2 separate regions of the Homo sapiens genome follow, and region 1 is linked to region 2. The links come from fine-mapping of genetic effects on plasma protein levels. A gene starts in region 2. The other region holds a variant in brackets. All regions are shown on one strand. Distances are between the middles of the regions.

Region 1 (12,198 bases), 33 kb before region 2:
TTTCACACAGGAGTTCTGCCTGTCATTCGAGTAAGTCCAGCCTGTACCTCCACATCTTGTCTCCATGGTAACCCCCACCCAGGACCATGCTCTCCTTTCCTTCCCTCCACAGCGCTCCATCGATCACCCTGGTCCCCATTCAACACTTCCTTCTGAGCCCCATCTTATTTCCCAGCCAGTTCAATGATGCCCTTGTCTCCTTGGCCTGCACTGCCCTCCACACTTGCTAATACCCAGTGTCTGCACCCCTCTCCTTCTGCCAAGTGTTGCTGGAGGAAGGCTCCATCTTCCAACCCCCTTTTTCAGCTTTTGTCCATCCCTGGACCACTCATGACACAGCTAAACTAAGCTATCAACTCTGCTCCCGACCCATTTCATTTCACCTGATTGGAGACTAGTTCTACCTTTCCTGACTTTTTGACGGTGGATAAATTATGCTTCTCTGAGCCTCGGCTTCCTCACTTGCTAAATTAGGATAATAATACTTCCTTGTTTATGGAATTGTTGTAGAGATTAAACAAACATACGCAAACCACTTAGCACAGTCCCTGGTCAAAGGTAAGTATATGTTACTCTTGCTGTTTTTATCAACAGGTGACTTTACTTCCTACTAAAAGGATGGGAGTCATCACTGAGAGCTTCTTCAACTTCCCTCTTCACTTCAAAATGTCATTCCATCATCAAGCTTCCTCTCTTTCTTCTTTCCTATCTTTAATGCATTAAATTGCCAACATCTCCTCATTGATTTTGAAAAATATATTCAGGGGGTATACGTGCTGGTTTGTTACATGAGTCCATCGCCTAATGGTGGGGATTGGGTTTCTAGTGTATCCATCACCCAAATATTGAACATTGTAACCAACAGGTAATTTTTCAATCCTCACCTTCCTCCTGCCTTCCCCACTTTTGGAGTCCTCAGTGCCTATTATTCCCATATTTATGTCCACGTATACCTATTGTTTAGCTCCCACTTATAAATAAGAACATGGGATATTTGATTTTCTGTTTCTGAGTTAGTTAGGATAAATAGCCTCCAGCTCCATCCATGTTGCTGCAAAGGACAGAATTTCATTCTTTCTGATTCTCTTATTTCTATCTCCTTCTACGCCTGTGATTCTCAATCTTTATTTATAATCATGGCATACTTTCAAACACCAGAGTTTTATATGGCATTACAGAGTCTTTCTGTAGCTATCTCCAATTGTATCTGGAGTTATCACCCTATTTCCACATTTCATCCTTCGGTCCAATATTGCTGTCTGAAGAGGACTCCACTGTAACTGGGCTCCCTTGACCCTCACAAGGGGTCTGAGTTCCCATAATATGCCCTTATACCTGGTTCCATCTGGCAGTCACTTCTTACCTCCCACCAGGGACCTGGTGAGGTCATACTAGGTTGTATCCCACGTTGCAAGACATATTTGATTCAGCTTCCCATTGGACAGACATCATCACAAGAGTGCTTATGCTCAGATGTAGAAAAGATAATTTGATATTTTGATGACAATTTGGTAGCTTGCTTACAAAGGATTTGCTTTATATCAGTGTGTCTTAGCATCCCAGTTAAGAACTTTATCTGAGATCTTGCTCCTCAGTTACTTGCTATCTTCAAGGCCTTCTATCTGTAATTAAAAAGCAGCCAGTGTGGGCTGATCACTTGCTCTAAGGCTGTGGAAATGATCCCCAAAGAACTACAGAAAGATTTTGGCAGAATACAATGGGGAGGAGGGAATTTGAAGGACTGTATACAGTTCTGTATCTCTCTAAGTCAGAGACTATACCTTGCAAGGACTCTTATCTGTCCTAGAAAGAGGGCAGAGAGTAGGCAAAAATGAAAAAGATAGTTTACACACAAAACTTTTGGAGAAAATCGAAGAGTGAGGCATTCCAGCAGATGCAGAGGCATTCTCCCCCACTTCAGTAGCCTCAGTGAAGTCTATCCCGGTGTGGCTTTTGTGACCATCCAACTGTAGCAACATCAGACATGATAGGGAGGACCCCCTTCTAGCAGTGGCATATGAGGAACCTTTACTTGGCTTCTGAGGTGATGCCATCAAATGGAGCCAACTCAGGAGTGAGGGGAAGTGCCACATGGTGGCTAGAAGGACTCAGGCCCCTTGGGCCACCCCCAGAGGCCCACAGACATCATTAGGACCACAGTGGGGGTTAGGGGAAACTGAAGGTCTCCAACAGCATTGAAGAAGTGGGAAGCGGTTAGCAGAAGAGAAAAAGATACTACAGATTGGAAAGAATTCACTCAGCATAGAAGAAATTAGTTGCTGGTATTTTGTTCACAGTTCTGTGAAATTTTTCATGCTTTGTTGTGGCAAAAACAACTATAAGAAAAACAAACAAACAAAAAACCCTCCTAGGAGCACGTGTGCGTTGCAGAATGACCTGGCAAAGGCAGGAGTAAGTGCGAGGATCTTATGTTCCCAGACCTGGCCAAGGGGACCTTTGATGCCCTTGTAGCAGAAAGGCAACCAGCTTGTCTGCTTACATATGAACAAGGCTCTGCCTGGCCATGTTTTATATCCATAAAGGATACCACTCACTCTACATCCAACCAGTGTTTCTTTAGTGCCTGTTAACATCCCACCATAGTTTGTGTAACTATGAGCACTGGGCCACCTGTTATAAGTTAGAGAGTGGGGATAGCTCAGTACAAAGTTCCACACTGCTGGAATTAGGCCCAAACCCTGAGGGTAGGGAGACAGCTGGGGTCTCAGATGAGCTGGGGATTAAGCAGGGGCACTTTCCATCCCAAGTGCAGAGCCATCTCCCTCCATAGCCCACAGTGTTGCTCACCAGCCAGGCCTAGCATGAGATCATTAAAATAGCAGAGAAGAAAGTCTGGGGGCCTTGAGTTTGTCATGGTTTTGACCAACTTTCCTTGTTAGGTTCTTTGAACAGTCTCTCTTCTTTGTGGGTGGGACTTGTTCCGGATAAAGTAAACAAAGAGATCTGTTACTATTAATGGAGCTGTTTCTCATAATGAAAATAATAACCATGATAAGCTTCACTTGTGAGCCAGTCATTGTACCCTGAGTGCACATTCCCAGCCCTTCAGGAAGCAGGTCTGAACCAGGCGGAGGGTTGGAGAGGGGGCTGCAGGCAGACCAGGGCGGGGAAAGGTGGGAAGGCAGTTGCTCAGTGTTTACAGAACACCTTGGGGCAAGTGAGAAATGAGGGCCTCAATAAGGTTAGAAACCTCACATTATTCTAGTAGAGAGAGGATGAGCAAGCCCCTAGCACTGCATTGTCTAGTACAGTAGCCACTAACCATAAGTGGCTGTGTACATTTAAATGAATTAAATAGGTTACATTAAGTTACAATTGAGTTCCTCCGTCATACTAGCCATGTTTTAAGTACTCAGTAAGCCTGTGTGTTTCGTGGCTACAGTACTGGACAACAGATAGAGAACATTTCCACTATCACAGAAAGTTCTGCTGGTCAGCACTTCCCAGAACCTGAGTGCTATCATTACAAAGCGTGGGGTGGAAATGGGCCATAAAAGTGAGGCAGCATTTTATCAAATAGAGAAATCAAGCTGGAGGGCCCAGAGAAGAAGATGCTTTAGATGACAGAGTGAGGCATTCAACTTGATTAGAGAGGTAGTAGGGAGCTATTTCATATTCCTGAGCAAGGGAGGCCCATGATAAAATATAGTTGTATGACTGGACTGTTGGTGCTGAATTTTAGTCTGCAGGTGTGAGAGAGTACTGGAAAGGAAAGAAGAGAAATAGAAGAAGTGCCACATGCCTAGGGATGTTGTTTCTGCTGTAGAAGTTAGCTGCTTTTTGCCCCAAGATGGGGCAAAGGAAAATTAAAGAAGGAAGTACGAACAGAGAAGTCAGCTGAGAAACGTTATCACTTCCTTTCTTCATCTTCTGCCGCTGAACCCTCAAAATAATCTGCTCTCAATTCTGACTCAGTCTAGATTCCACTTTGGATGGCTGTAAATGTGTGGGTGAGGTGTGAATAGTTCTTTCAGAGCTGGGGAAACAATTTCAGGTATTTTCCCAGTATGTTGATATGAGCTGTGCATTAGTTTGGGAACCATGTTTAAATGGATTTGAAAAGGGAGTAGAATTTGCATGGCTTCCCCCAGCCCTCCTTTCTGAGCTGTAGACCCATCCATCCAGCTTCCTAACACACCTCCATGAGAATGTCAAGCTCATCATGCTTACCACCTCATCAAACTTACCACCTTTCCCCTTCTCACCTCTACCATTCCTCTGGCTAACACTGACACACATGCCCAAACCTGCTTTACCTCCGCTGGTCTCTCTGATGTACTTGAGTGACATTCTCCCAGCCAACCAATCAACACAGAAGGCTGCCTGTTCCTTATATTCAGCACTGACAGCATTGCTTATGACGTGAGCCTTCTCAAACAGAATTCTGATCATGTTACCTTCCTGCCTAAAAGCCTCTGATGACCCCCAGCATCTCCCTCCTAAACGATGAAGTCTAAACTGCCATGGAGTTGGAGTCCTTTGCGGCTTTTTCTGCTGCATTTCCTGCTCTTTCTCCATGCCCATCCTGCTCTTTATCCAGGACAGTATGCTATTCTCTCTGCTGGAATGTCCTCCCTACCCACCCCCACCTACATCCAATTTGACCTCTTGGAAAACTCTTACTTATCCTTCAAGAATCCCTTCAGGCCCCACTTCCTGTGAGAAGCCTTCCTGGCCCTGCCAGACTTAGTTGCTCCCTGGCTCTGGACCCTTGTCAGTGGAGACACCTGTGTATCGTAGCCTTTGTCGCCTTGCTTGGTACTTTTTTCTTTTCCTGTCTTCCCTCTCCACTTGCACTCTAAGAAGACAGGGGTACTCCCTTGATGTTTGGCCTTGCTCATCCTTGTA[T/C]CGTGCACCTAACACAGTGCCTAACAGAGAGAAGGAAGGAGAAAGTAGCAGAAGTGCACAGGCTTCTACATACGCAGCCTTGGGTAAGCCGTATTCTATCTCTGAGGGCCAGTTTCCTCCTCTGTAAAGCTGTGATAATAACATGCATCTTATGGGGTGATAAATCCATAGGGATTAGTAAGGGTAAGTGGACAGGTCCCAGCCAGTGCCTGCTTCTTAAAACATAGAAATTAAATGAAAGCTATTATTATTAACATTATTATTATAGTATGGACTCAATTTTATTCTAAATGAGAGAAAAGAAAGAGAATATTACAGAGGGGAGGGATGAAAAGAGGGAGAGAGATGGTATAGAGGGAGATTGGCTGGACATTGCACAATATTCCAGGTGCAAAGCCAGAAGCCTGGATTAGGATGGAAGAGGAAACAATATGAGAGGCTAATACTGAGAGGACTCAGCCCCCTGCTGAACAAGGAGGAGCAGGAGACAAAGATTTTTGTGAGGTCTGGGGTTTGAGTGGCTCTGGTAAGGTAGCCTTCCCCATTCATTCATTCATTCATTCAAGATTGAGGACTTGACATGCACCAGAACAATTTTGGGTCCTGAGGATATGAGATCAGCCAGACACAGCCCTGATGGATCTGGGAGACCCATTCATGGAAGCAAGAAAGGAAATCAGAGAACAAGGCCAGTTTGAACAGGCAGGTGAGTCCAGTTCTGGACATGATAAAGTGTGAGGGTGGACTGAGAGCTTCAAGCTTCCCGAGAGTTTTGCTTTTGATAAGTAAGGCTTATGAATTAAGAAAGAGACTAGGGGGAGAAAAGAGGTGCAAGTGAAAGCCAGAAGATTTGAGTGACGTGAAAATCTCAGACCAGAAAAGTTATTTGCATAGACGTTCAGGAACCAAAGAAAAGATGGCATAGAGGAAACCAGCACAGAGGGAAGCATTTCTAACTTGAGGCTGTGGGGATAAACTGAGATGCAAGACAGAAAAGGGTGCTGTTTTCCTTGGGATTTTTAGTAAAGCTCCACACTTCCTAGAAAAGCATCTGGCAATTGAAGCATCTTGATAAATATTTGCTGAGTTAATAAAATAAATGTTTTAGAACGAAATGTGAGCCACCATGCAGGCATTTTGTATTTGCGAGAAATATTGGCCAATTTACCTATTGGCGGGATTTCTGGATATGTTCACTGCATCCACTTGAGCAGAGTGGACGATGGAAGATATAATCCCTGATCTAACAATAATGAATATCAAGTTACTTATGTATTGAGTACTTACCACGAGCCAGCCACAGTGCAAGCACTTTATAGAGCTGTGTCATTTAATGCTCATGCTCTTTATGTAAGTACCATACTGTCACCCTCATTTTTCAGACCAGGAACCAAAGCTCACAGAGGTGAAATGATCTGCTCCAGTTAACAACTAGAAATCTGATTTCAAAGCCCAATATCCATACCTAAGCCACAGCCCAGAAAGGAGCATGTATTCTTGTGGTGAAGAGAGGCATCCACATTGGAGATGGAATCCATGTCTAGTAATTCACAGGGTTAAAGAATCCAGAGTGAAGTGGACAGGAGAGACCATGCCACCTTTCACTGAGCTGGGAACAAAGCCACTACTCCTAACCTATCATGTGAAGCAGCTGCCTCAGCCCCACCCATTTTGCCTCTAGATTGTGCACAAACAATTTTGTGCTATTTCCGCCAGTGTATGCTCTGCAAGGCTCAGCAGGCCTCGAAAACACAGTGACAGAGAAATGGTACTGAAACCTCAAGCCCACCACTGAGGCTGTGCTGATACCCCAACAAGAAAACGGACATATTAGGTAATCCTGCCACGTCTTACCAGCTGCTACCCAAGCTCATGTGGAGAGACCTAGGGATTCTGAGCAAGGTCCCACGTGGCCGAGGCATGGGAGGGAGAGAGAGTGAGCTAAGCTACCGTGGGCCGGCAGTCAGGCCCACACCACAGCTGAGGAAGGAGCCGACTGGGGAGCTCTCTGAAACAGCAGACCTGGCATTGCTACCACCTGAAAATGATAAACAGATTCATACGTCCCTGCCCACACCCCGCACACATACACACACGCAACGCCCCTGCCACATTCACACATACATACATGCAGACCCCCCACCTATCCTGTTATCAGACTGCGGGATGATGGCCCTCAGTTTCCACCCAGAAGGAAATTAGGACATGTGACTTCAGAAACTTCAGGCTCGCTTTCTGTATCCCTTTTCTGTCTTCAAAGCAAACGCCACCCCCCCATTGAAAAGCACCCATCATTCTTTTGAGTTTCGTTTTTAACTTTAGTATGAAAAGCACTGCCCCTTCAAAAGGCATCTTTACTGTGAGACTGATGACAGCAAAGGAGCCTTCTCTCTGTACCCTGAAATTAAACCACACGGGTCTTCCCAGGGCACTCACCCTTGAGACAAATTTGTATAACCGAATTCATAGAAATATCTAAAAGTTGTTCCCTAAATGCCTGCCTCAATACTCCGGAATTGGGCAGATTTCATTTTCCCATGTTCTATGGATTCTAGAAATGCCCTTTATTGTTTGACAAGTGACTATGTCAACCTAAAGGAAAAGAATCTGCTTTGGAAAGGGGCTTGGCACCAATAACTATGTGTTCTGCAGGAAGAGGTAAAAAATGCTGTCTTGGTAGCAATATGAGACAGAGGGAGAGAAATTATCTGTGTGTGTGAGAGAGAGAAAAAGAGAGAGGGAGAGAGAATGACAGAGAGTGAGAACAAGAGAGAGGGAGAGAGAATGACAGAGAGTGAGAACAAGAGAGAGAGAGAGAGAGAAGGGGAGAGAGAGAGGAGTACTGGCTTTCTGTTACTTCTTTCTTATCAGCAGCTCTGGAAACCTGAGCCAGCAACAAATATTGCAAGGTTTTTTTGCACGCCAGCAAATTTGTTTCACCTAGGGTGCCTCTCCAGGGCCACCCCTCCAGTGTTCATGTTTTGTGGCTTTCGTGTTTCTTAGGAATTTAGAGTGCAGTTGCCTCTTGTGGGTCTGTGTGTCTCCATCAGTTGCAACACCTTACCCAGCCCTCTCCGCCTGTCTCTGCATAACAGGAAGCCACGTGTAATAACAAGAAGCTTGCGGAAGAACACTGCCCCAGAGCTGCCTCTTCCTCAGCACAAGGCAAAGTGGAGATTTGGCAATCAGAGGGCAAATTTTCTCTGTAGAAAATTCTTTGACAATGTAGCTGGTTAACTGCATATGCAAGCTACCTGCTTTCCCAGGCGTTAGTGTAAGGAAGAACAATTCTCATCAGGTAGGACTGCAGGATAATTAGTGCAGTAAGCTCTGCCCAACACCCTAGTGGTGTGTTACATTAGGAAGAGCAATCGAAGTACTGACCCCTCCATTGCCAAAGCTAGTCATTTATTTTAGGTAAGAGGTTTTGGTTCACTAGTCACTAGCATTCATAAATAAATAAGTGCATTAGGATGCTTGAAATATTTGTATTGCATAAGCATGGATGAATTATATGGCCTGAGTAATTCACAGGAAGGACCCTTCCAGGGCAATGCTCAAGTACTGGCAACTACCATCAAGCACTGGCCCTTGAGGAGGCTACAAGCCATTACAGCCTAACAGACGTCACTCCAGTCAGTTTCTGGGGCCTCTACAGGTCTTAGGGAACAGTGATTTTAAACTTTAACACTACTGAGAGTTAAAGTGACCAATGAATAATGCTAGCAGTGGGGTGGGCCCAGGAAACGAGTCATAATATGTTTCTCCTATTCTACAACCTGATAAAAAGATTTCATTAAAAACTGAGACAATTTGATCATGGATAAAGGATAGATGATACCAATGAATTATTGATTAGTTTTGTTAGGCGTGATCAGGACAATGTGGCTAGAAAATAAAATTTCCATATTTTTAAGGATGCATACTTAAGCATGGGGAAAATGTGTCTGGGATTTGTTTTAAAATATCTTAGCATAAAAGGGAATAAAAGAAAAAGAAAGGGATAGATAAAACAATGTGACGAAATATTCTGTTGAACTTCAGTAGTGGGTCTACATGGGGGTTCATTATATTTTCTCTGTTGTGTTTGGAATGTTGATATAATAAATGATCTTTTTAAATATTTTATTAGGCTTAAAAATAAATTCAATAGGCTTGTTGGGTTTTTTTTTTTTTACATGTCAACTATTGCTCTAAACTTCAACTTGTCTATTTTCCAAGGTCTGCATTTCAGACCTGTTACTCCTCAGAGCACAGCGGAATGACACTACACAGATGTTATACCACTTACGTACACATTCCCTCCCAGACAGATCCGCCTCCATATCCCTGCACTGTCACTTTATCAGCTGATGAATGGGAAGAACTGAGGGACTTACTGAGGCTGCCAGTATGGATAGTATTTCCTGTAAAGTCAGCTTTTACCCCAACACTTACTGGCAGAGAGAGAGAAAGGGCAGCAGAAACCGGAGGGAGCCCAAGGGTGGTCTGTGAGGGAACTCAGGAAGGAATGACCACCTAGAATTCTAGGTGACCTCATGGCAAGAGCTTCCATTTCCAAATTTCCATTAAAATGACAAAGGGACTAGCTCAATAATAACAAGGGGAGATCTAAAATGAAAGTAAAAGTAAAGAAGGATTCTATCTGCATGCCATTTGGGGGGAAGACGGATTTCTGCAAGATGTAGGATAGGCAAGGCTAAACTGAAGAAAGCTGTTGGTCTCACAACTCAATGCATATGGAACAGCCTGCCCCAGAGGGAGCGGAAAGGGCCCAAGAAAATCCTGCACTAACAACACCTAGAGAGGAACAGCAGCAGCATGGAGGCAGGGAACAGATGGAGACCTGAGAGCTCCTTCCAAGTGCGCACAGAGGTCTGGCTGGGGCATGTTATTTCCAGTTTACCCTGGGTGCCCAAAGTCAGGCCAGACAAAAAGTAACAGCTCTGTCCTGCTGGCTCCTCAACCAGGTCACGATACCAGTGAGAACAGAGGGTGCCTGTCCACCTAACCTGGAGCTACACAAGAAGAAAAACAAGAAGAAAATGAACTTTCCTTCAACAGAGAGGGTAGCTACCCTCCCTTAACCCCTTAACTGGATGCGTCTTAAAAAGTTACACATAAGCTTGCCATAGCACCCAGCAATTCCACTCCTGGGAATCTATTCAGGGGATGTGAAGGCACACGTCCATAACAGTTTTTGAATGTGAATGTTTCTAGCAGTATTATAGATGATGGTCAAAACTGAAAACAATCCAGAAGCCACAAACAGGTTACTGGATAAACAAAATGTGGGAAAGCCAAACAGCGCAATACTACTTGGCAACACCAAGGAGCAAAGGACTGATTCATGCCACACAAAGAACCTCAAAAACATTCAGCTAAGTGAAAGAACCTGAATGCAAAAGACAACAAATTATATGAGTCTGTGCATAAGAAATATCCAGAAAAGGCAATTCTGTAGAGACAGTGGTTGCCAGGACTGAGGGTGAGAGCAGGGATTGATTGCAAAACGGCTGGAGAGAACTTTTTGGGGTAATAAAAATGTCCTAAAACTGGACTATGGTAATCATCACACAACCCTATAAATTTACTAAAAATCATTGAATTGTATACTTACAATGAAGGAATTTTATGGCATATAAATTATACCTCAGTAAAGTTTTTAAAAGAAAGATTAGAAACTAAATAATATATATAACTGCCATACACACAAAAAACCCACCATGGAAACAGTGAAGAGTAGAACAGTTTCTGCAGAAAAAATGAGAATAATTTTCTACACTTTTTATGTGGTGAAACATGCCAGAAACTCTGCAGAGTTAGAGATTTTTGACTGTTTTGTCACTCAAATGTCTGGAATATTCCAGGAATGCAAGAATACTTCAATATTTAAAAAACTAGTAAATGGTTTAGCCCATCAATAATTTAAAAAGTCTTATGTTTTCAAAGATTATGAACTTGCTTTTGATAAATTCAACATTAGTTTATATTAAATGTTAGTTATAAAGAACAGAAGATCACATTCTTAGGTGTTAAAGTGTATCTCAAACCGAAAAAAGGGGAGGGAAGAATTGAAGGAACGCTCTGTATTGCTGAAAATGCAACTACAGAAAATTGGAAGAATTAAACATTTTTAGGATTCAGGCCAAATATTTGCTTGGTGTTTTAACTGTATATGGAAAAATGATGAAGTACAGCAGAGAATCTTCAAAGAAACAGAAAATGACACAGCAGAATACTTCTGATACTTCTACTGTGTCATATAATTGAGAGCTGTGAAGTTTATGAAAATTTTCACTGCTGTGACACTTTGCAATTTTGTTAAAGATTTTTTAGAGTTTGATAAAGAAAGCATTCTAAAATTCATGAAAGATGATCAAATACAAAAAAGCCAACATCATTGTCTTGGTTACAGCTAGTGACTTGTGAAAAAGTATCGAGATTTTACTTTTTCATAAAATTTTATTATTTATCAGCATTTCTATCAACTTTGGGCTACACTTCATGATGCTTGAGTAAGGCTTTGCAGAATGCAGTATTTTCCCTGTGATTCAGCCACTGACATCTGGTAGTTCTGTTTCCTCTTCAAAGCTGTCAAACATTATCAGCTGCCTGAAAAATGTGTTAGGGGGTTTCCCTTTTATCACCCAAGGTCCTCACAAAAATGTCAGGACTTATTTTGTATGTATCTGTGAGCAACTGTAGTGTTTCTGTCTGACCTGGACTTTCTTGGCCCACACACTAGCCTCTGCTTGACATTTCTTTTTGGCTGGCCACTCCTTCACAGTTCTCATGGAAGAACTAGAAGAACACCATTTTTGTTTCTTTTTTCTTTTTCTGTTTGTTTTTAGCCAGTAGTCACTGAAGGACCAACTAAGCTTTTGTGCAAAGGCTGAAGAAGCAGGAACCAGAGATGCACAAACAGGAGGTAAAAGAAGGAGAACCATGAGGGGGTGACTCAACAGGCTAACACCGGGACCCCAGGATGCGGTCCTAATTCCAAATCCCTCTGGCTTAGCACATCTAATAGCATACGAGAGCTTTTGAAGATGAAAAATGAGTTGTAATATTTGACTTGGGCTATTTTTCTCAAATTATAACTTGCGTGATTTATTTTTTCCCAATTATTTTTATTCCAGTAAAACACACATAAAATTTACTATCTTATTTTTGATTGTACAGTTCAGTAGTATTAAGTACATTCACATTATTGCACAACCATCACCATCCATTTTCAGAACTCTTTTCATCTTGAAAAACTGAAATTCTGTACCCATTACAGAGTTAACTTCCTTTTCCTTCTTTCCCTAGCCCTGGTAACCACCA
Region 2 (12,198 bases):
AGGAGCAGATTTCATGAAATCATTACTTGCAGGGAAGCTATAAACTGAAGATATAACATTAAAAGACAACTCAGTGAGCCCTATTCTGCGAGGGTAGCAAGATAATGTAATCCAAGTACAGCTTCTAGTCTGATCTGAGGTTGGAAATGAGACTGCCTATAAAGAAAGGAAAGAGATGTTTGCTGAGCACCTAATATATGTCATACGCATGAAATATTTTCTTCCTCTCAGCATATGTGTTACTCTCTCATTTGTAGAAGCTAAGCAACTTGCCCCAGATTCACTACTGCTTAAAGCAGAGTCCCAAGCTCATGCACACTTTCCTATATCACACGTCCTCCTTTCTTTCACAATTTTTATCAAGAAGAGTCAATGGACAATTTAGCCCCTTTCTTTGGGCAATCTGAGGTTATTCTCCCCAGTGAGGGCCTAGAGTGCTGGTGTTACATACCGTATTAAGAACAACTCATTTTGTTCAAAAGCCAAAGGATCAGTTACTTGTGGGGTTGACTCATATATGCATGTTCAGAAATGTTCATGGCTCTTATCTAAAAGGAAGTCCATAGTATTGAGAGCTGTAAACTTCTCTGTTTAAATGGCCTGGGAAAGGATTTTTATACTCTCTCTCCAGTGATCAGAAGACCTAGAGACTCCCCGTGGACAAGATGTTTACATTGTGACCAAAGCATGGGTAGGAACTGGTGGTGGTAAGGGAGACCCAGATGGAGAGAGGGCTCCAGGCAGATGAGAAAGAGCTGGAAGCTACAGAAGGGAGGATGTGGCTGAAGTCTCCAGTGTGCAGCAGGAGAAGGGAAGGTGGCAAGAGAGAGGTGGGCAGGTAAGAAGGGCCAGATCATAAAGACTTTCCATTTAATTCCTTCATGCAGAGGGTCTATACATAGTATAAAGCCTTCTGTTTCTCCAAAAAAGTAGATACAATGTGCAGGAAAATCACTGTGAGAAAGACAGCGAGTCTGGGGCCCCCTCAAGAACATCTGCACCTAGATCTTAAAGAAGGTGAATGGCAGTGATGGGAACAGGGGTGGTGGGGCCAGAATTCCTCTTAGGCACCATCTGGGACTCCCATAGCTGTTCTCATCATCACAGCACCTGTCTCACCGCTTTGCAGTTGTTTCCTTGTCTCTGCCCCCACTGAACTGTATGCCCTACAGGACTGTCTTCATATTTCATATTTAGCTCAGCTTCCTGGCAGCCAAGACAAAGAGAACACAGTAAGTTGCACTCCTGTCTTACTAGAAATGAGGAAGCACTGCAGTCCCTCAAAGAAGACAAAGTTATATTCTAGGTCTGCCAGACCTATGGGTATCATTTTTTTTTTCTTTGCAAAGTGACTTTTGGTTTTTAAACAAGCTTTCAAAGAGAAAAAGGATGATGAGTAAAGCATAACACAAAAAATGTCAATTATTTTCTCTCTTTGTAACTTTTGTATCTCAGTTCCTGTCTGGGGACTCTACAAAATTTCCATGCCATCCTCTGTGACAGAATCCCCACAATCTGCCTGTGCCTCGCTGTGGCTCTCCGTCATGCTCTTCCGGTACTATTTGGTCTCAATTGCTGTGGCCACCAGTGGGACTTTGCTTCTGCTCTTCACTCCCTCCCATGTCTTGTATCTTAACACAAGTTCAGACCACTCGACTGGGGTGCACCTTCATGCCAGATTCTTTCCTCAAGCTGCCTTGTGTGTGATAGGACCATTTTCATCAACTTACTTCTCTCAATTGGTCCCAGCATCTTTCCAACACCCCCATAGTGGGCCTTACTCAAAAGGATCACATTCCAGCTGGTGGAGTCTCCACAGAGTTCTCCCATTGGATGCTACATGAAGATGCTTCATAACTGTGAGGTGAGAGACAGGGAGATGGCAGCACTACCATTAATGAAGTGACTTATAGTGATGTATACCCACGCCAGGGCCATTGGGCATCTTAACCCTGGCCTAGTTTCAGACACATAGGCAATAAGAACCATCAAGCTAGCCTCTGCCAATCCAAGTGCACAGTCTCAGACAAAGTACAGAATCTAAGCTGACCTCATCTGGCATGTACAGGGGGAATTTTGTGCATGAGTGGATATAAAACCAGGTCCTGTTTTCCCATCACCACTTAGGTTGGTCCCCACTCTGCTGCTGCTGCAGAAGGCCCAGAGGTGACATCAGTCCTTTTTCCTCAAATGGCCAGAAGGCTGTTGGCCTGGGCAACAGGAAGCATGCACTTCGTGGAGAGAATTTAATTTATGCCTAAATGTTAAGTCAACAGCAACATTACGGACAGACATTTTTACTTAAATAACCAATGGCAATGTAACCTCTGCATAAAAATAGAGTGGGCCCTGGAAGGAACAGCTCCCTTGTGTAGCTGTTCACTGTCTACAGAAGGCCATGTTCATATTCTTTTTTTTTTTTTTTTCTTGAGACAGAGTCTTGCTCTGTCGCCCAAGCTGGAGTGCAGTGGCATGATCGTGGCTCACTACAACCTCCGCCTCCCGGATTCAAGCAATTATCCTGCCTCAGCCTCCCAAGTAGCTGGGATTACAGGTGCCCGCCACCATGCCCAGCTAATTTTTTGTATTTTTAGCAGTGACTCTACTTGCATGTGTGGGGACCTTTATCTATCGGGGACCTTTATCTATCAGGGACCGGAGGCTACTCATGGAAAGCAAATACTTTGGGCACAGCAAACAGACCACATTCAGTCCATAACCCAGGCTGGTCTGGTTAGCATATAGTAAGTTTGGTAATGAATTGTAAAGAAAGCACTCACCACTTTCTGATGTTCAGAAAGCTGAACATCAAACAAACACAAATCAGTTCACCATGGGCTATATAGTTTCAGGATTCTCCTGAAACTGGGGAACCAGCATTTCAGTGTTCAAATAAGGTACAAAATGTGCTCAAGTAGACTGGCCTGGTCATTGGGAAGCCATGTAACTCTTTCAAGAAAGCCCTGTAACCTGGGGCTGGAGGTCCAGAAAGTCTGGACCTGTCCTCCAGTGATGACAATTCAGTTAAAAAGGCAAAATATTTGAGTAACTGCGTGAAGGCAGTGAAAGGCTGTCATGATTCTAAAATTGAAAATGATAAAGGATCACAGGAAGAAGTGTGTGCTCTTGGCTCCACCTCAAGTCAAGACTGTTTGTTCTGCATTTTCCTTTTTCTTCCAACCCCTATTCCTGCCAGGATCAATAGGTCAGATTCAGGAAGTTCTGTGACTTTTCTTCATCACTGCATGAAAATCTGTCAGACTCATGGTAGTGGACTCAGGTGAGTCTGCCATCCAGCAAGACCCTCTTCAGCTCTGAGATGGAAGTACAGTGGAGAGTCCCTCCCCTCGCTCTCAGAGACTTTCACTTTCACTCCAGCTCACAAGATTCTGGGGAAACTGGAAGCATAGCTCATCAAAAAAAGCTAGGGCCCCTTTCCTGGGTCACATTCTGGGTCAGTGTCTTGCTATTTCACCAAGGGCCCATTCTAGTGTCCTTCCTAAGCTATGGCCTGGCTCCCTGAGGACAGATCTCAATAAAAGCCTCCAAAAAATTGAGCTACAGAGTGAATCATGAGTTAATATTTGGGTTCTAGTCCCAAATGACCTTATATTCCACCCTTTTGGTGATCATCTACTCCAGGAGTTCTCAATTAGAGAAGATATTACCCTCACCCCCATCCCCAAGGAACACTTGGCTATATGTAAAGACAGTTTTATTTGTCACAACTGGTAGTGGTAGGGGGGTGTTACCATCACCTAGAAGGTAGAGGCCAAGGATTCTGCTAAACATCCTATAATTCACAGGACAGGCCCCACAACAAAAAACTATCCAACCCCAAATGTCAATGGTATCTAGGTTGAGAAAACGTTAAAACCACAGATTGTCAGCTTTCCTGACATAACTCCCAGTTCCACAGGTCTTCCCAATAGAGGTAAGTTTCTTTGATATATTGGTAAGCCAGTTCCTACAGTTACACCTGGACACAGGATGCTGGAGAGGGGACTGGAAGTCCTGTGACTGAGTCAAGGGCTCTCCCCCATCAGAGGACTCAGATTATGATCTGAATTCTAGTTCATGTGACACTTATAAATGCATCCTACTGTAGTCCAGTCCTTCAGGGTGACAAACTTATAGATAGCATGGATAATGACAAGGGCTCCTCTGTATTTCATTATGTCCTTATTATTATTTTTTCATTAAGTAATACTAAATAACATCATCTGCTTGTTTTTGTTGGCTGAAGCATTCATTCAGCCAACAAATATTTATTGTGTGCCCAGTTAAGAACAAGCACTGTGCCCTATACTAAATGGGTGAAAACTGTCTGCTGGGGCTAGTGAACATAGACCACAGTACCTACAGCAGGAATTCTTCCTCAGGTGAGGATGAAAGTGGGGGGTGCTTGTCAAAATGCAGGATCCTGGGCCTTCCTCCAGAGATTCTGATTTTGTAAGGATGGTGCCCAGAAATCTGCATTTTTAGCCAGCACTTGATGTGAGTCTGATATAGGTTATCTATGGGACCATGCTTTAAGAAACATTGGTAAAAATCATGAAATTCACTCAATCAAATCCCAGACCTGAGTATATGCAGTCTTGAGCTCTAGTGTGGTAATTTCCTATATCTGTGAAAAAAATCATTTAACTATTAATTGTCTCAACTTTCTTGTTTTTTAAACCAAAGGAGAGTAAGACCCTAATAACCTGTGTTCAAACATAGGTGGAGAGAAGGCAGAATGACCTTATTTATGTAGAAGCAGGACACTTTCAAAGGAACAGAACCATATAATTTGTATGACATAGATTGAGCATTAGCCAAGTACATTTGTATCAATGATAGTTAGGAGGAAAATCTCTTGCTTTTGTAAGAGGTATGAACATTACCTTTTCTCTGAACTGACCTCAGCATACAATCATTCACAGCTTGATTAGGGAACGCTAATCTCCCCTAGTTATCAAGATAAATGGCTTCTCTGATTACTCTGTTTTCTTTCAAACCCTTTCTCAGACCTACATCATTAATGCTCCGCTTGTGACTTTTCAATGGAGCACTTATTTTAGTAGCACACTTAACCCCATTAGAGGTTCAAATCTAAACCTTTTTCCAAGCAAAATTCCTCCAAGCTGTTAGAAACACCTTAATACTTATCTATATCTAATATCAAGGAAGTTATCTCATGTATGGGTGAGATACATAAATGTAGGCAATAGTTTTCAGCCCGATTGCTCTGATGTGAATTACTGTGACCAATTTAGCAATAGAAGAAATCTATGTAAAGAACTTCATAACGAATATATAGATTAAACTTAATGTATCACTATCATCATTAGAAGGACAGGGTATGGATTAAAGGCCAGACTATCTCAGAAAATATGCCAGTCTCCCTTAAAATAATAAAAAATACATCTCTTTTCCAACTCATCTAAGAATTCCCTCCCATTCTGTTCCTTTAATTATATTTTTATTAAGTAAGGTCTTTATTATACTTTAGTACGTTTTTATGTTCCTGTCTTGTTTTTGTTGTCTACCTTTTGCTACTACCTTTTAATACACCTTGACTCCTGGGCTCACAAAACAGAACACCCATTGAATTTACTTACAGATTGAGCACTTCAAAAGACTCTAGTCTTTGTGCTCCTGTTCAGAACCATTCAAAATATGGATGAGTTTCCAAACAGGAAGGAAATGGAATATGCTAAAAACTCACAGTTTTGTGTGTAGTCTGTAGCCTTAAATCATCCGAAGTACCCCAGATCCTGCACACCAAGGAGTGCCATCCCACTGTTTTGTCCAAATGAAAGAGAACCCCCTCCCAGCATTTTAGAACTTGGACCTGGCATGCCAACTTAAATGCAAATGGTCCCTCAAACTCAGATTTGCTGCGAGATCCATTTTTAAGTAGACTATGCTCCCTGCAGACCAACATGCAAATGGTGCTCGAGTATACGTAAGAATCACAGAGGCAACGAAAAGACACCAACCATACCTATTTTCGCAGCCTCCACTTTCAGGTTGAAATCCCAGTTCCTTGGCAATTTTAGGGACATTTTGCTTCCAGTTTAAGTGAGTAGTTAGTGAAGCGGTGAGTCTGTCACAGTTTGCGCCCTTCTTGTCTTTTCACTCTTTCCCTCTGTTTTTGTGTCTGTTTTTGTTCCTCCTTATGATTGCTTCACAAGCAATCTTAGGCTTGAGGCTGATTTGCCAACGTGTCTCCTCCTTTCTCTTAGATGAAAGGTCCATCCATCTGTCACTGGAGGATGGCACCCAAACTCCCCCAGCCTCCACCCTCAGTCCCACAGGGGCTAGCACCCTGCTTTTCTTGCTTTCAGTTTTACCAGAAATATCCCAGTTGACACTTCCCTCTGCGTCATGGGAAGCAAAGCTCCTTTTCGAAAGAATCTCAGGCCTTACTGAGTTGAGGTCGTGATAAACAACTGCTGCCTCTTGGTTTTGTGTGTGTGTGTGTGTGTTTCTTTTTTAACTGTCTGCTTCCTTGCATTTGAGGAAGTGGGTGGCTGTTCAGTGAAGATGATACATTATGAGCACTCTTTCTTGAGAAAATGGTTTTTGGAAATGCTTGAAAAACCAGAATGGTTGCTTCTGTTATAAAAGATTACAGTTTTAATTAGAAGAAAATGTCGAAACTCCCATCATCTACTTCAACTCTAAGCTCTCCTCTTCCTCACCTAACGGATCAAGCATCCAAAAATGGTCAGAAAAACAACAAGCATTCCCCCAAAGTTATCTTCTTTTAAATTCTTCCTGCTGTAAGGACCATGTCGCAAGCTCTCCAGGTGCTCAGGATAAAGTTTGCAAGTGATCTCAGCCTGATGTAGGGAGGGTTTTGATGTATTTGGCTTAATGAAGCAACTTAAGCTAGGTCGACCCACTCACATATCCTAAGGGTTCTTTGGCATTGTACACAGGGTGTGGGCTTTAGAATCAGGGTGTGTGGGCTGTATACATGGTGTGGGCTTCCATTTGCTAGCTCTTCAACTTTTGAACAAGCAACTGAATCTTTCCAGACCTTAATGTCCTCATCAGTAAAATGGGGTTGATAATAACCACAACTCAAAGGGTTTTTGCAGAGGAATCTAGTGCAGAGCTTGACACAGAGTGGTTGCACCACACACATTAATTCAACCTTTATTCTATTCTATTTAGTTCAGTTCTGTGACAAGCTTTCATGTTTAACTGGGTCAGCCTAACCTAGTGCTTAAGCATTTGGGCCCTGGAAACAGATCACTGGTAGTCAAATCCTGGCTTTCCTGCTGTGGGACTATGGACAAGTTTCTTGACCACTTTGTGCTTCAATTCTTATCTGTAGATGGGGCAAATAATAGGGCTTACTTCATAGGCTGTTGTGAGGCTTTAGTAGAAAAGCCAGTACAAAGTGCTCAGAACAGTCACTGCTAGCCAGCATCTAAGCTGCACGCCTTGCTCCATTCATTCTCCAACTCTCCTAGATGACTCTGTCATACTTTCTTCTTCACCTGCCACTTGCTTACTCTTACTGACGACCTGGGTTCCCGTTTCATTGAGAAAATCAATGTAACTGAAAGAGAATGTCCACAAGCTTCCCTCACTCTATCTGCTCACCTACCTGCATGCAAGCTGTATCCCTGACCTTATTCTTGGTACAATGGGTGAACTGGCTGTTAACACTCTCCCATCCCTATTGCATCATCAATTTCTTCTCTCTCTTTGATCCTTCCTGTCAGCGTTCAAACTTACTATTTTTTATCCCATAAAAAATCTCTCTGGATGCCACCACCCCCTTGGGCTAGAGTCCCATTTCTCTCCTTCATTTCTGAACCAAGCTTTAGTAAGAATTGTCTAACTTGCAAATATCTCTCCTCTTATTCTCTCCCGAATCCCTTGGTTGATGTTTTTGCCCCTATGACTCCACAAAATATATTCTCATCAAGGATACCTACGACTTCCCTGTCACTAAACTCACAGGTCAGGGCTTCATCTTCATCTCACGGGCCCATCAGCAGTGTCGGACACATTTGATAGCTCTCTCCAACTCTGAGCCCTCTGTCCATGGGGCTCCCACGGCCCATGGTTGGCCTGGCTGTCTGCCTGCCTTTCTGGCTTTTCCGTGTCTGTTTTCTTGCTGATTCCTTCTCATCTCTCTGACCTCTAAATATTGAAGGAAACCAAGACTCGACTGGACTCTTTTTCCATCCACACTCACACCTTGGTGAGCTCATCTGTCTCAAGGCTTTAAATGTCACATATTTGCAGATGATTCCAATGTGTATTTCCAGCCCAGACCCCCTGAACTCCAAATCACATGGATCTCTGCTTAGATCTATAGTAGCCATCTCAAACTAAATGTATCCAAACTGTATATCCAGAGAACGAGGCTGAAGGAACAGTGGTGACCTGGTGTATACTCCTGTCTTCAGGAATGAAAGGAGCACAAGAGAGAAGAACCTTGCAAGCGCATTTAACGCCTCTGCGCACACCCTGTCTGCTCACATTCCATTGGCCAACACAGGTCACATGGCCAAGCTCAAAGTCAGTGAGGCCGGAAGTACACCCAGTCCTCAGCAGCAGTGGGGAGGGAGAAGGGCCGGAGGGGTGGAAGAAGGGCCGGAGTGTTTGCTGATCAAGACTCCAATCCACCACACTCACCCAGTCTACCCAGCTACCCTCCAGCCTCCCCAGGGAGCTGGATTCCGCTGAACTTGACTCAGCTACTTGGAGACATTGCACTACTGCCTGCCTGACCCAAACACCACTGCTCTTTTTCGTATCCCAACTTAATTAAGCGGGTGTGAGAGAGGTAGCTGTCTGGCCCGGCCCAGCAGCATCTCCACGGGGGAATTCGACACCATCTAAAATTTCAGTCCTGGGACCTTTAAACTGAGGAATGTTGAAAATATTTTGAAGGTGTCATTAAGAAACACGCAGGGAACTTCCTTTACTTTTCAGGGTAGGTTCCTGTCAGTCTTGGAAAAACTCGTGACCCATGGGGGAAGTTAGTTGTGCAGATGCGGAAAGGCAATCAGATGGAAAGCACACTCCCCACAAGGGCCCAACACAGCAGCCTTCCCCCACCACAGAGCTCTCTCTCGGTCAGTCAACTGGGTACTGCGCTCCCTCTCTCTGATCTTCATAAAATGAAGAGCCAAATGCCTTGCCTGGTCCCAAAGTTTGAATTAGCATCTGCAGTAGCGCAAGCAAACATTGTTCCATCTGTTGGCTTGTTGAATGATAAGCGGATTTATTAAGGACCAAATTTTTGCTGGACATTGGAAGAACGTTCGTGAACAAGCAGACGTGTTTTCTGCTTCCCCACCTCACCGCCCTGACACCGGCTGTTGTCTCTTACAGTCTGTTGGGGGAGAAGAACAATTAAGTGAACGATTAAATACAGTGTGAGAGAGCTATGTTGGGGAAAGTGTAGGGAGCTAGGGGGGGTGTATATGCGAGGGGCCTAACTGGACTTGGGGAGTGAAGGAAGGGTTCCTGGAAGAAGTGTCTTTTAAAGTAAGGCTTGACAAATGAGTTAGGGAGGCAAGGGGGTTGGAAAAAGGATTCCAGACAAAACCAACAATATGAATGAGGCACGGAGAGAAGAAAGTTCTTCAGGTCGCTCCTAAGAAGGATGAAAGGGGTGGGGCTGAGGAGAAACGAAGCTGGAGAGATAGTCAGGGCTGAGCAGGGCTGGATCACACAGGGCAGGTAAACCTTGACAAAGAGTTCTGACTGTATCCTGGGGAAAACGGAGGTCACTAGGGAGTTTTCAACAGGATAGGGGTGAGGAGGCTGTGGCAGATATCTAAGAGAGAGGAAGAGTGAGGGAGAGAGGTCGGCAGCATGGGCATGGAAAGAAGGGAAAACAACACAGGAGTCATGTGAGTGACAGAATTGATAGCCCCAGGAGAATTATTACAGCAGAAAAAAGAGGCACCCAAGATCCCAGCTCGTCACTGGAAGGGTGTAGTTCCAATCACAGAGATGGGGCACGCACAAAAACAGTGAGGATTGGTAATGAGGAACAAGGAGAAAACGGTGGGCTTAGTTTGGGGCATGTTGATTTAGGGACCCAAGGGGCACTTGAGTGCAGATCTTCTGCACTCAAGGCTCATGTGAGCCTAGAGCTCAAACAGACTCATTCATTCATTCACTCGTTTACTCCATAAACATTTGTACAGGCCTGCGTTGGATGCTGATTAAACAAGAAGGATGATTAAGAACCCAGCCTAATCCTCCAATGAGTCATGAGAGAGAAGTGTAAACTTGCCGTGCAAGATACAAAAATAGTGCATGCACAGGGTAAAGTGGGAGCAGGAAATGGTTCCCTCTGCTTGGGTGGCATCCCAGGAAAGGCGACCCATGAGACAATAGTCAGGAAGCCAGGTGGGGGAGTGAGAGGAGAACGCTCCAGGCAAATGAAATGGCAGATCGCTGTGAAAACACAAATACGGCCCCCATTTAGGGAAGTATCAGAAATGATGTATGGCCCCCAAAGATGCCCCATACCCACTAGTTGAAGTTGCAGGAGCTGCTGGGGCCAGGGTCTGATGCACTTGCTGAAGGGTTGGACTCTAGCCTGAGGAGAACTTTTTTTTTTTTTTTTTCTGAGACAGGGTCTCACTCTGTCAACCAGGCTGGAGTGCAGTGACACAATCATGGCTCACTGCAGCCTCAACCTCCTGGGCTTAAGCAATCCTCACGCCTTGGCCTATGGAGCAGGTGGGACTGCAAGCTTTCACTACCATGCCCGGCTAATTTTTTAAAAACTCGTTCTGTAGAGATGGGGGTCTCACTATGTTGCCCAGGCTGGTCTCAAGCTCCTGGGTTCAAGTGATCCTTCTGCCTTGGCCTCCAAAGTGCTGAGATTACAGACATAAGCCACTGTGTCCAGCCTGGAGAACTCTTAAAACATCTTTCGTTATTATTTTTACCATTACAGAAGTCCGTGCATAATCACCATACAAGTGTTTTAAAAGCAAAAAGAAAATAAAAATCATTGTTACCACTTAATGTGTAATAAGAACTTTTCCCATTCTTGGTTTCCTACTTCTCCCTCACCTTCTACTCATGTGTACATGTAATATATGTATGTATGCATGTATTGTAAATTTTTTAAATGGTGCATATGCTGTCTTATAAACCGTTATCTTCCTTTAACAAAAAAAAGTCATGAAAAAGTATCTGTCATTAAGCATTTTTCCAAAACATCATCAGTGGCCTCATGATTTTTAATTATATGATGAGAGCAAAATTAATTTAACAAATCCCTGTGTCATTGAGCATTGGAGATATGCATAAATTTTCATAATATTCTTATAGCTAAATATCTGGATAAATCTAGTCCTTTTCCCCCCTCAGGGGGAATTCTTAGAGATAGAAATGCTGGGAAAGTGAATAAGAATATACTTATACTAAGGTTTGCTATGTGCTCTCAAATTGCTAAATCACTGAATTGTACACTTTGATGGGTGAATTGCATGGTATGTGAATTATGTATCAATAAAGCTCATAAAAAAACAAGCAGTCAGGTGAAGAACAAACATGAAAAAGTTCTACGGTTTATGTTTCCATTAACAATATATGTAGGGCCCAGTTCCCTCAGAGCCTCACTAACAGTTGGCATTATCATTGCTTTTATTATAAATCATTTTCAGTTGAATAAGCAAATACTTTTTTTATTAAATAGTGGAACTAAAGTTATTTTTTAATGTGTTTATTGGGCATTTGTAAGGGTTGGATGTGTCTAGGTGTCGATGTGTCTGAGTGATTTTGCAAGGAATCAGTGCAGGGGGAGTTTCTTATATCTTTATTTCTGATTTGCAGCCCACTGGCTCTAGGATCTTCTTCAGGAGCATCAGTTATCTGCATGTTAGCTCTCCACTCTGTCACTTCCTTGTCTTTCATTTTGTCATCTCTGTTACTGTTATCTGCATTTGAAGACAGTTTCTCATGTTTGTTCTTCACCTGACTGCTTGTTTTTTATGAGCTGTATTGATACATAATTCACATACCATGCAATTCACCCATCAAAGTGTACAATTCAGTGATCTAGTACATTCAGAGTTGTGCAACCATTGCCACAATCAACTGTAGAACACTTTCATCTTCCACAAAAGAAACTCCATACCCATTAGCAGACCCTCCTCATTTTCCCCAGCACTAGGCAACCACTTTATGTCTCTATAGATTTGTGTATGGACAAAG

Alleles and levels. Positions count from the first base shown, and alleles are read on the strand shown. Strength reflects both the effect of a copy and how common the allele is.
As copies of T replace C in region 1, the plasma level of the protein whose gene starts at base 6,439 in region 2 goes down (moderate association).

The links. PIP is the posterior inclusion probability: the model's chance that the variant is causal. Protein levels are from antibody-based Olink assays in UK Biobank. Linkage for the fine-mapping came from a reference panel and not from the study's own genotypes, which makes the PIPs less certain.
Region 1: its variant is fine-mapped to the plasma level of the ARHGAP25 protein (UK Biobank, PIP above 0.99).

Annotation. Positions count from the first base shown.
Region 1 is chr2:68,762,208-68,774,405 of GRCh38, reverse strand. All of the region lies in intron 1 of ARHGAP25 (Rho GTPase activating protein 25), which reads right to left. LOC105374790 (a long non-coding RNA gene) reads left to right here and starts at 11,736. Exons shown (of 3, transcript XR_940225.3): 1 at 11,736-11,800. RefSeq lists an enhancer at 2,926-2,975. The variant T/C (reference allele first, on the strand shown) is at 4,870.
Region 2 is chr2:68,729,052-68,741,249 of GRCh38, reverse strand. It overlaps ARHGAP25 (Rho GTPase activating protein 25), which reads right to left and starts at 6,439. Exons shown (of 11, transcript NM_001007231.3): 1 at 5,990-6,439. The coding sequence starts at 6,050. RefSeq lists an enhancer at 1,445-1,674.